Linked DNA regions of Homo sapiens. The protein of the gene in region 1 purifies or fractionates together with the protein of each later gene. This does not show direct contact. Each region holds a gene or a part of one and is shown in the gene's direction. Other genes may lie near its edges. The genes, in order: GEMIN5, RCC2 and GOLGA4.

Region 1 (3,652 bases):
GTAGAGACAGGTTTCTCCATGTTGGTCAGGCTGGTCTTGAACTCCCGACCTCAGGTGATCCACCTGCCTCAGCCTCCCAAAATGCTGGGATTACAGGCGTGAGCCACTGCACCAGGCCGAATTATATCATTTTAATTATACCTAAAACTTCAAATTTTATAGTTCAGACCTATGAAAGAGATAGCTAAGTTTTGGAAACTCTTGCAAACTAATTTTTTTATATTAGTGCGTGTTTAATGTAAATTAAAAACAAAATTGCCACCTATCTCATAGAAGAAGCTGAAATTACCAACGGGAATGCTGTAGCACAAGCTCCAGTAACAAAAGGTTGCTACTTAGCCACTGGAAGCAAAGATCAAACCATTCGAATCTGGAGCTGTTCTAGAGGCCGAGGTAAGATTGATCTTTCTTTTGTGATGTAACCTATGTTGATCTGGTGGAAGTAGAGGGTTTTCTGTTCTTATTGTCCTGAGGGTGTGTCATCTATTTGAGAGCAGTTCTTCACTTTTTGGTCTAGAATTCTGCTTCCTCATTTGAGCCTGGCCTAGACTCTCTATTCTCTCAACATCTGGCCTTAGAGATTAGTATTTCCCATGCATTCCAGGAGAAGACAAGGATCTCTTGCTTTATAGAAGGGTCAGTGTTTGGCATGGAGAGCAGAATATTTGTAATAAAAACAGGAATATTAGAACATGATATGGCCTAAGCCAGGAGAATGGAAAATATCTTAAGAGTTAGAGCTTTTAATGCACAAATGCAGAATAAATTACATACACCCAGCATAGAATTATGTGTAAAAGCTCATTTTATCCAAATTATAGAGCCCCTCAATCATTTAGCTTTCCCAAATGTCTCTTTGAACAGAACTTTTATCTTTAAGTTTAAAAATTGAGAGAAACTCTAGGCATAATGAATATTTATAGTATATCATAGAATATAACCTTTATAGTAAAAATCTTGTTTTTCTCTTTCTAGCGGGCTTCTCTTCTTTCTTCATTTTATTTTATTTTTTTTGGCAGTTTTTTAAGCTGTGGTGGAAAATATAACATTTGCCATCTTTATCACTTTTAAGTGTACATTTAAGTGGTATGAAGTACACTCTAAAGTTGTGCAACTGTCACAGCCACCCATCTCCAGAATTCTACTCTCCATTTCCCCCTCCCCCAGGCCCTGGCAACCATCATTCTGCTTTCAGCTCTATGATTTTGACTACTCTGAGTATTTCCTTTGAGTGAAGTTATACATATGATATGTCTTTTTGTGATTGGCTTATTTCACTTAGCATATATCCCCGAGGTTCATTGATGTTGGTACCGTATGTCAGCATATCCTTCCTTTCTAAGGCTGAATAATATTCCATTGTGTGTATGTCCCACATTTTACTTACCCACTCATCCACTTGTTATAAATAAAATTTCGGTGTGGCAAAAGAAATAGCACTCAAATATAAAACTTTCTTTTTAATTCTCAGCAAGGCAATGTACTTCTATAGAAGGGTGCGCCCTTACAGATGGAGCAATGGTGAGCGCACACTTGGACAACGGAGGGGAGGGGTTCTTATCCCTGACGCATGTGGCCCCTGCTGCTGTGTCGTTCCCCTATCAGCTAGGGTTAGACCGCACAGGCTAAACTAATTCTGATTCGCTGATTTAAAGAGAGTGCCGGGGTAAGTGGTTTGATGGGAGAAAATGGTTATGGCAGGAAAAATGGTTATGGCAGAGCAGGAAATCAGAATGAGTCAGGGTGGAGCAGGTAATCGGAATGAGTCAGGATGGAGCAGGTAATCGAAAAAGGTTGCTTTTACGAGGAAGTTAAGTTTAAAAACAGAAGCCAAATAATTGAACATACTGACATATTGATTCTTTGAAGAGAAATTTAGAACTCATATCTCACACACTGATGGACATTTGGGTTGCTTCCATGTTTTACTATTCTAAATAATATGCTATGAGCATGGATGTACTTTCTACTTTATTTGAAACCATGATAGTTTTATCATATTTGCCCAAATGCATGTAAAGCAAGTAGCACAGCACTTGGAATGTCATCCAGGCTTCATCAGTGGTAGGTAACTAATAGTATAATTTGGGAAGACAGAACTTTTTTAAGGTTTACAGGCTACTTCTTGGCATACTGCAGCTAAAACTCCAAGTGGGAACATAAGGCTGAGGATCCCTCCAGGAGGGTAACCTCTAGACTTAGAGGTGTCTGGTAAAATGGCCTTCAATTGTGGTTGTGCAGCAGAATCAGCTGGAGAGTCTTTGGAAAAATGTAGGTTCTTGTACCCCACCTCAGATCTACTGAGTCCGAATCTCTAGGAGTTAGGCCCTGGCGTATGTATTTTTTAAAGTTCCACCTGTGGTTCCGATGCACAATACAGCTTAAAAAACGGTGATTAGAAGCATGTCGGGTGGAGGTACTCCCCACCCACAGCACGTTCACTGCCAAATTTTTCTTTGTTGGATTTCTTGCCGACTAGAAATAGTAATCCCAACCTCTGTCCTTTTCACTTTGGAGTTATGTCACTGCAATACTTTTGGGTACACAACTCAGCTGTGTTACTAGCTGGGTTCTCAGTTTTACTTGGGAACTCATTTTCCCAGACGAAAAAATACTCTTTTTCTTTTGAGGCAGAGTCTCTCTCTGTCGCCCAGGCTGGAGTGCAGTGGCACGATCTCAGCTCACTGCAAGCTCCACCTCCTGGGTTCATGCCATTCTCCTGCCTCAGCCTCCCGAGTAGCTGGGACTACAGGTGCCTGCCACCACGCCCGGCTAATTTTTTTGTATTTTTAGTAGAGACAGGGTTTCACCATGTTAGCCAGGATGGTCTCGATCTCCTGACCTCGTGATCCTCCCGCCTCGGCCTCTCAAAGTGCTGGGATTACAGGCATGAGCCACCGCGCCCGGCCAAAAAAAAAAAATACTCTTAATACGTTGAGGTTGTCAAGATAGCCTGTCGAAGCTTGTTTGACCTAAATGTAGCTAGACTAGTATTAACCAGTATTTATAGTGATTAAAATTATAACCATAATAATGGTTAAAATTGTAACCATTGGAAAATGAGATCTGAATTCTAAGTAGCCAAACTAACAAGCTTTTACAGCGCAGACTGTGTGTTATGAACCACCGGTGACTTCATGCATGTAGTTTCACTGTCTTGAGTGCCCACTGGCCTTCTTTTTAATCTGCAGGGGTGATGATTTTGAAATTGCCCTTTCTGAAGAGAAGAGGAGGGGGTATAGACCCAACTGTTAAAGAGCGCCTTTGGTTGACACTCCATTGGCCCAGCAATCAACCAACACAGCTGGTATCTAGCTGTTTTGGGTAAGTCTTTTTTGGTCATGCTTTCTCAGATATATTTTGTTTTTCTATTTGGCCTCAAGTCCTCCTAGGATGGAGAAAGTAATGGCCAAGGCTTGTATTATGATGGGCCATTTGAAATGGAAAAATTATGAGACTAATGCCTGTGCTATCTACTAACAGAGCTGTAAAAAGATCACATAAGTATAGTCCGGCAGTTAGGAATATGGACTCTGAAGTCAGAACTAAATTTCAGAATCACTTTGTCACTTACTGCCTTGTATTCCTGAGCAAGACCCTTTACTTTTCTGAGCTTCAGTCACTTCAAGTGTAGAAAGGGGAGATGGTTATA
Region 2 (3,652 bases), on another chromosome or scaffold:
TGAAGACAGGACACTCGGGTCACCCCTCAGAAAGAGCCTTCTGGCCCAGGGTGAAGGCCGGAGATGGAGGGCAGGAGAGCCTGGGAAAGGAGGGGCAGGCGGCAGGGAGTGAGGAGGAGGGGTAGGTTACTGTCAGGGTGAGCGGGGTTTCCTGGGTCAGCCTCTTCCTCAGCTGACGGCTGTGGAAAGCCAGCACTCCTGCCTCCTGGACAGACCTCGCACCAGGTCCCGGGCACTTGCGGGTGGGCGTGCTCAATGGCAGAACACGTGGGGCTGAGCCCTGTGAGAGGTGGGACCCAGAGAGGGGGCTGGGGCCGAATGGGTGTAAAGGTGGCAGGTGACGCCAGGCCTGTGCCAGCTTCTGGGTATTTTGATTTTTGGGCCTTCAGAGGCATCGCAGAGATTCGAAGTGAAAACCCGATCCTTGTGCAGCCTCCCAACAGCCAAGGCAGGGTGGCACCCGAGGAACACCTGTCCCTGGTACCCTCGGGAAGTGGCTGCTTGGTGGCCAGTGACATTTTGGAGGTCACCCCACCACCCCAGGTGTCTGATCTGCATTCTCATTCTCTCTGCAGCTGCTTACCGCAATCTCGGTCAGAATTTGTGGGGGCCCCACAGATATGGGTGCCTGGCGGGGGTCCGGGTGCGGACAGTGGTCTCGGGCTCGTGTGCTGCACACAGCCTCCTCATCACCACGGAAGGGAAGCTGTGGAGCTGGGGTGAGTACCGTGCGGGTGCTGGGCACTGGGGACCACTGTCACCAGCTGTCCCCACACAGCACGTTCTTCTGTTTGCCTGGAAAAGAGACTCGCGTCTTATAAGGCTGGGCTCCTTCGTTCACAGCCCATGTCTTTTTTCCTAATTCCCAGCTCGTCTCTTGTCTACACGCTACATGCAGATCCCCTTCCCCCCTGACATTTTTTGCCCATACGCAGCCCCTACTTCTTTGATTCCTTGTGTTTACACAAGGAACATTTTCCTGAATCTTCTGCCCGAAGCTTGATCTTTTCTGATACTGAGGTGTGTGAGTGTGTTAGGCAGGCTGTCCTTCCAGCAGACAGTTTCCTTCCTCTTTGAGGCACGATATGACATGAGACCTCTGTTGCTGCCACTTGAAATGCCACTGGCTTTTCTACCTCCCGCCTCATGTCATAGGATGCTGCGTCCCTGCCGCCATGGCCCTCGTGTCTGAGGTCTGCCCAAGTCTGGTCTGCAGGCTTGGCAGCTCACTGTCCGTGTTGTCTGCTTCTTAGGATATTTCCCCAGATACTTCAGTTTGCTTTTTTGGAGTTGTTCGGCTTTCCCTTCTGTTTTTCCTCACCTGGGCACTCGGGATGGGTTCCAGTTCTTCTGTTAGCCTCTGTCCACGGCACTGTCCTCTGCAGCCGGCCGGCCCATTCCTGCCCGTGTCCTCTTCCAGATCATTCCAATCATAGGGTATGGGCTAAGGCTCATTTTATCCCCAGCCCTTTTGGTGACTCCCGGCCTCTGCCTCCAGCGGGGCATATTGGCGTTTGTCCCCACCCTTTGTCGCTGGTCCTCTGGCTAGCTTTTAGTCCATATGACTGCATTTTTATTTTGGGCTGTTTGAACCGTTTTTTGTGATTTCATGAGCTGCTGTACCAAAGTCCAAATATATTAACATCTGTTGTCTTCCCTGCACATGGCTAATTTTGTAATTCTGTTGAAAAAAGCTAAAGTGTGTCTGGCCCAAATTTATACTTTATAGTCTCTTGATGACATGCTGACATTGCCACAGTTTTTGTTTTCTCCCGGTTGGCATAGATGTGTGTCCCTTCCCCCAGAGCACCCCTCCTACTTTGTGTTCCAACACTGAACACAGCCTTTTATGTCAGTGTTCCAAACTTAAAATACCTCAGTTCTGATCTCTCGCTGAGCTTCACTTGCGTGGTGGCTCTGAAAGCGCCCTCAGTTCTGACCCTGTGGGCAGGGACAATGTATGTCCCGCCATCAAGACGTGTGATCCCCGAGCAGACAGTGCAGTTGGTGAGGACAGGGTTGGAAGGTGTCACAGGCCCACTGCTCGCCACTCTAGAAGGCAGGGGGCGGCGTCTGGTGTGAGTAGAGTACCACGGGAGGGTGGCTGACGCATTGCTCATGTGGGGTCTCCATCTGTGGCCCGCTCACCCTGTCCTGCCGCATCTCAGTCCACTGAGACTTGCACTTGTTGCTCTGTATTCACATGCCTTTCACATGAACTTGGGCAGCTCCCATTGGAAGCTGGTGTATCTGCCTCTCCTGCTCGAGTGCCAGTGCTGGCCCTTCAGCCCGCCGTTCTTTAATTAGAGCGAGTCAGAGGCTGGTTTCCCTTCGTCGCAATTCCTTCTGTAGTCAGAGGCTGCTCCTGCAAGCCTTCTCCAGGACAGCTGGAACTCATCTTAATGGCTCTGCTGTCTGCCTTTATCACAACCTAAGGGTGAAAAGTTCATTGCTGGAGAAGGTTGCAAAACCCCCTAGAATTGCCCTGACTTCTCACCACTGTAAGATCTCCGTCAGTTTCCCCACGTCAGGTTACATGTGTGGTTTTTCTCTTATCGGGAGGGATCCGAGAGTGGCCGGTTGAATTTTTGTTTTGGAACTTGGTAGTTTGTGTTGAAACCTAGATGCGGTGTAGGGGCTCCCAGCCCTCCTTTTGGCCCACCCAACTTCCACGTCTGTTTGGAGTTGAATTTGGTTCTGCAGAGGACTTGGGGGTAGGGGTTGGCCCTCAGGCCTGCCTTCCGCTGGAATTCACAGATACAGGGCCTTGGTCGCACCTGCAGCAGTCCTGGAGGTGGGGCTGGGCGTGTTGTGTTGAGGGTGGATCTGTGCTTTGTCACCAGGGTTCCTGTGGCTGAGAGTCCTTGAGGGGCGATCCCTAGGGGTGGGATTGGCACTGTTATGTGAGCACCATTTACAGGGTAGAAAAAGGAAGAGAAATATTGGGCAGACACCAAATGGTCCTCAGTGGATGCCCAGAGCACCAAAGTGATTAAACTCTGGTGAGCCAGGTGTCAAAATGGGGTGCTGTCTTAAAATACATCTCAGAGGGTAGGGACGGGGTGGTTGTCTTGCAGGCACTCTAAGTGGGAACGGCGTGTTTCTGCGAGCATGCCCGCCTGTGCATGGTGTCCCTACCACACTGAGCCTCTCATTTCCCTTTGTAGCAGAGACGTGGGAGGTGTGCACGGGTGGTCCCGCTGCTGCCCCAGGGAAGGAGGTCCGGGGAGCTGCAGCAGGCGCCATTCCAGCGGGCAGAGGGCCGGGGCGTTCTTTGCTCTGGATCTTGGCTGTTGGGAATTTGGAGGGTACCTTCCAGAGACAGATGGGCATCATTTGAGAGTGTGTTTGTACTCGCCTTCTCCTGGTGGTGCCGCCTGGACCACCCTCTCTCTTTTCTACTTTCTCTCATGTGATCTGCAGGTCGAAATGAGAAGGGGCAGCTGGGACATGGTGACACCAAGAGAGTAGAAGCCCCTAGACTCATCGAGGGTCTTAGCCACGAAGTGATTGTGTCTGCAGCATGTGGGCGGAACCACACCTTGGCCTTGACGGGTAAGGAGGTGGCTGCTGGTGTCTCCTCTCAGTTTGGCAAGAGGCCAGGTGGTCTGCCTTGGGGATGGGGCGTGGGGTGGTGGAGTTCCCCTTGTGA
Region 3 (3,652 bases), on another chromosome or scaffold:
TTTACTTTGTAGCACTAATCAAAAGCTTTCTATGACTGCTGGTGAGGTACTTTTCAATATATCTTATCTTTACTATACTTCTCTCTCTTCAGTGAGTTTTATACTCTTTATTTAAAAAACCTCATTACAGGATACAAGTTATTACTGTTTTCAGAGTTTAACCTAGTCTCGAGTAGATTTTATAGATGAGAAATCACTATCTGTTAAGTAAGGTTAAATTACAGAGCATAATTACAGTCTGGTTTATTTGAGGGTCTTGGTGTATAGGGAAGGAATCTTAGTCCTTTGTTGACTTGCTGTGGAAACTCAGGCAATTCTCAGAGCCTCTTTTCTTCACAAGACTAACATAATCTTGTTAGGATTGTCCAGGAACCAGAGTACAGTTGCCTGCGCTGAGTGATAATGTAGGGATGGTGGTGATAATTATTTAGCCTCCTTTTAGCAATGTGTAGAACTAGTCTTTTCTGGAAAAAGAGACTGGAAAGGTAAATCATTGATGTGTATAAGAAAAACCATTAAAGACCTCAGTAGGAGGGTCAAGTCACACGGTGATACCAGCCCACAAAATGCCCCCATCTCCAACTTCGGTACCTTAGAGTGCCAGCGACATGCGACATTGCTGGGATGAGAGCCTAGATCTCAATGGTTTGACTGCTGTATAACTTAGCGCAAACTGTTTTCATATTTTTGACCCTCATTGGTAAAATGAGATTGTTGGATTATACTATCTCTAAGGTTTCTTTCCCCACAAAGTATAAAATCTTGTTTTATATTTGTTTCAAGTAGGAAAAAGAATTGCCTTCTAAACAGCAGGCAGAAGTTAAAACAAAATGCACATACCAAATGCACATATCTCTGTTTTTCCTAGAACAGCTTTTTTTCCCTCCTCTCAATTTTTAGTTTACTATACCTTGCTACTTCATTTTATGATGGTTTAGGTAGCTTAGATGGCCAGAGTAGACTGGATATTCGAGTAGCACAATATGGGCAAGAGTGAATACATAAGTTCTTGGCTCATCTAATTGTTAGTGTTTTTATTGAATAAAACTGCCCTAGAAGTACACCCTGATTTTTTTTAAAATGAGAGTATTATTACATTATTTAAGATAATTTCATTAGGAAAGTTTATTGTAATTGGGTAACAAGCATCTCAGAATTGAGATTCCTTTGTTATATGGAAACCCCTCTTTAAAAGTTTTCTTAGACATTTTTCTCTTTAGAGTGCTAGCAAAATGTAATGACATAAATGGACATCACTGTTTTCTTGATGACTCCATTAAAGAAAATTTCTCTTTGATGGAGAAGGTTGGCTTGTTTGTGTTCTCTGTCCATTCTAGTCATCTTTTTCAATTGCTCTTCTGTTGACTCTCCTTCAACTTTGCTTTCACACTGATTCTTGGTGGTGTATATAGTTCTTCATCAGTCCTTGCCCTGGACCAGTCTTGTGTTCTCTTAACGTCTCATTTTCTTCCCCTGTTGGAATTTTCAAAATTTCCTCCGAATTAATAAAATCAGAACTTTTCAGCATTGCTAGGTACAAAAGTTTTCCATTCCCACACGAGGTTTACCCTTTCCCTCTGCATGGGCTCAGAAGATGCATGCAAGGTGGGTTCAGGAAACACATACAAATAAAACTGACACATTATAGAAAATATTGCACATGTCAAATACATATTTGTTTTCTTGAGATTGGTTTTGATTCTGGTGTTGGTAGAATAAGGTAATACGTGATCACTGGAAAAAATATTATAAGCCAGAAACATAGAAAGGGAGTCCCTCATGATCTTCAGCCTCCAGACTACTTCTGCTATGCCAGTATCATCTCTGTGAACAGTTTGGGGAATATCTCCATGTTTTCTAAGCCATGTAATTACATATTTATAGTTACTCCTTTATCATTCATTTTATTTTATAAAAATGAGAGTATGCAATGGCTTGCTTTTTTCACTTAATATATTTTTATATTATTCCACCTTATTACAAATTGGTCTCATTCTTTTCAATGGCTGATTGTATGATTATATGGATGTCCTACAGTTTAGTTCACCAGTTTCCTCCTCATTCCATTTACTTATGTTTTCAAGATTTTCAGTACTTTACAAGCATAGACATAGGGAACATCCATATACATGGATTTTGTATACTTCTGCCAGAGAGGATATTAACCTCATTGTGTTGTGTGTGTTGCACATATTATTTTCTAGCTTGTCTTTTGGTTTTGCTGCTTTTTACTAACTTTAAATATGAAAGATAAATAAAATGATGTTTCTGAGGTTGGCCACACTATCCAAGAATAGACTCAGATTTTATAAGCAATCTTTGTTTTTAATGCTGCCATTTTAAATCACCGTGAAGGTAATTAATGATTTTGGACAATGACCATCTTAAAATGGGGCATAGAATTTATTTAAGGTTTGTCACAGTAAAAACTATATTTGAGATTGAGTTTCCTTAAATTGAAATTTCAGTTTGGGTCACCATTCCTGAAACCATTTCTGATACATTGTTGAATTACAAGAGAGTTATTCAGTGATCAAATTGACACATTAGGAATGAGAATTCAACATATAGACACATGGCTCTTCAAATTCATCATCATTTTCCCGAAAACTTTTTAGGGTAAATTGAGATTATGTAAATCAAATTTTAATGTGTACTTTCATGGAATTATGAAAGAGATCCTTTTGTAAAGCAAATAATTGCCCCGTAATTCAGCTGGTAAATATGTACTTAAAATATGCAGTACACCTTTCATTACGTTGTTTAAGTCTTCAAATGAAAGTTGCAAGTAAAATCTCAGCTACATAATATTATATTTACCTAGGATATGGGGGGAGGTATTACAGATTCCTTATTCCTTGCCTGTACACCCTTGATTTGGGGAGATTTGAGAAAAATTTAAGTACAGTCTGTAATCCTATGAACTTCATATACACATACAATCTATGTGTTATATTAAGTCTTAAAACTAACCCAATAAGCTTTTTTTCTTCCTGGCTTTGTAGTTTACTTCACCTCGCAGTGGTATCTTCTGAGTAAACCATCAGTCTGTGCTTAGTTAACATGTGGTGAGTGAAGAACAATGTCTTGTGTCTTTTGTGCAAAAATCAAATGTGTTGCCTGATACTAACCATTTTGCTGGAATTCTTTTGCTCTTGTTTAATAAATATATGATTATGCTATGGGTTAATATAAGTATTTTCTGTTCATTCTGTTATATGGATCGATAATAGTTAAAAATTACTACCACCAGTAAGAGTTATATAATTTTAGGAAATTTCATTTCTTTAAAGAGTAATTGAAAGTTTGAAAATTGCTCTTTGAAATTTTGTTAAAGAATCCAAAAAAGTATTTATGTAACTTATTTTCCCTTTTGTTTTTAATTTTCCAAGAATGATCTTTGAAATTATGATTGTGAGAGAGAAATGAAAAATCATTTTCTAGATAAAAATGAAGTGGTATATTCCGTGAGAATTCAAAATCCTGTAAAGCCTGAGTCAAGGCCAGTCAGAAATAATGAAAACTAGTAAGATCAATTTTAAAATATAGCTTCATTACTTCCTGAAATCAGACAGTTTAACACAAGACAACACATTTGTCCTGAGGAGACCGTTAGGCAGCCTACTTTAATTGAATGTGATTCTTCCTGATT

Evidence for each region.
Region 2: the proteins of GEMIN5 (region 1) and RCC2 fractionate together in Homo sapiens (co-fractionation; one large-scale study listed by BioGRID). This does not show direct contact.
Region 3: the proteins of GEMIN5 (region 1) and GOLGA4 purify together in Homo sapiens (affinity purification with mass spectrometry; one large-scale study listed by BioGRID and IntAct). This does not show direct contact.

What each region holds. Positions count from the first base shown.
Region 1 is NC_000005.10:154,928,199-154,931,850, reverse strand, and holds part of GEMIN5 (gem-associated protein 5), read left to right. Parts: intron 1-273; coding exon 274-393; intron 394-3,191; coding exon 3,192-3,324; intron 3,325-3,652. UniProt on the Homo sapiens protein: The SMN complex catalyzes the assembly of small nuclear ribonucleoproteins (snRNPs), the building blocks of the spliceosome, and thereby plays an important role in the splicing of cellular pre-mRNAs.
Region 2 is NC_000001.11:17,422,608-17,426,259, reverse strand, and holds part of RCC2 (protein RCC2), read left to right. Parts: intron 1-575; coding exon 576-719; intron 720-3,423; coding exon 3,424-3,555; intron 3,556-3,652. UniProt on the Homo sapiens protein: Multifunctional protein that may affect its functions by regulating the activity of small GTPases, such as RAC1 and RALA. Required for normal progress through the cell cycle, both during interphase and during mitosis.
Region 3 is NC_000003.12:37,358,238-37,361,889, forward strand, and holds part of GOLGA4 (golgin subfamily A member 4), read left to right. Parts: intron 1-3,005; coding exon 3,006-3,035; 3' UTR 3,036-3,068; intron 3,069-3,652. UniProt on the Homo sapiens protein: Involved in vesicular trafficking at the Golgi apparatus level. May play a role in delivery of transport vesicles containing GPI-linked proteins from the trans-Golgi network through its interaction with MACF1. Involved in endosome-to-Golgi trafficking.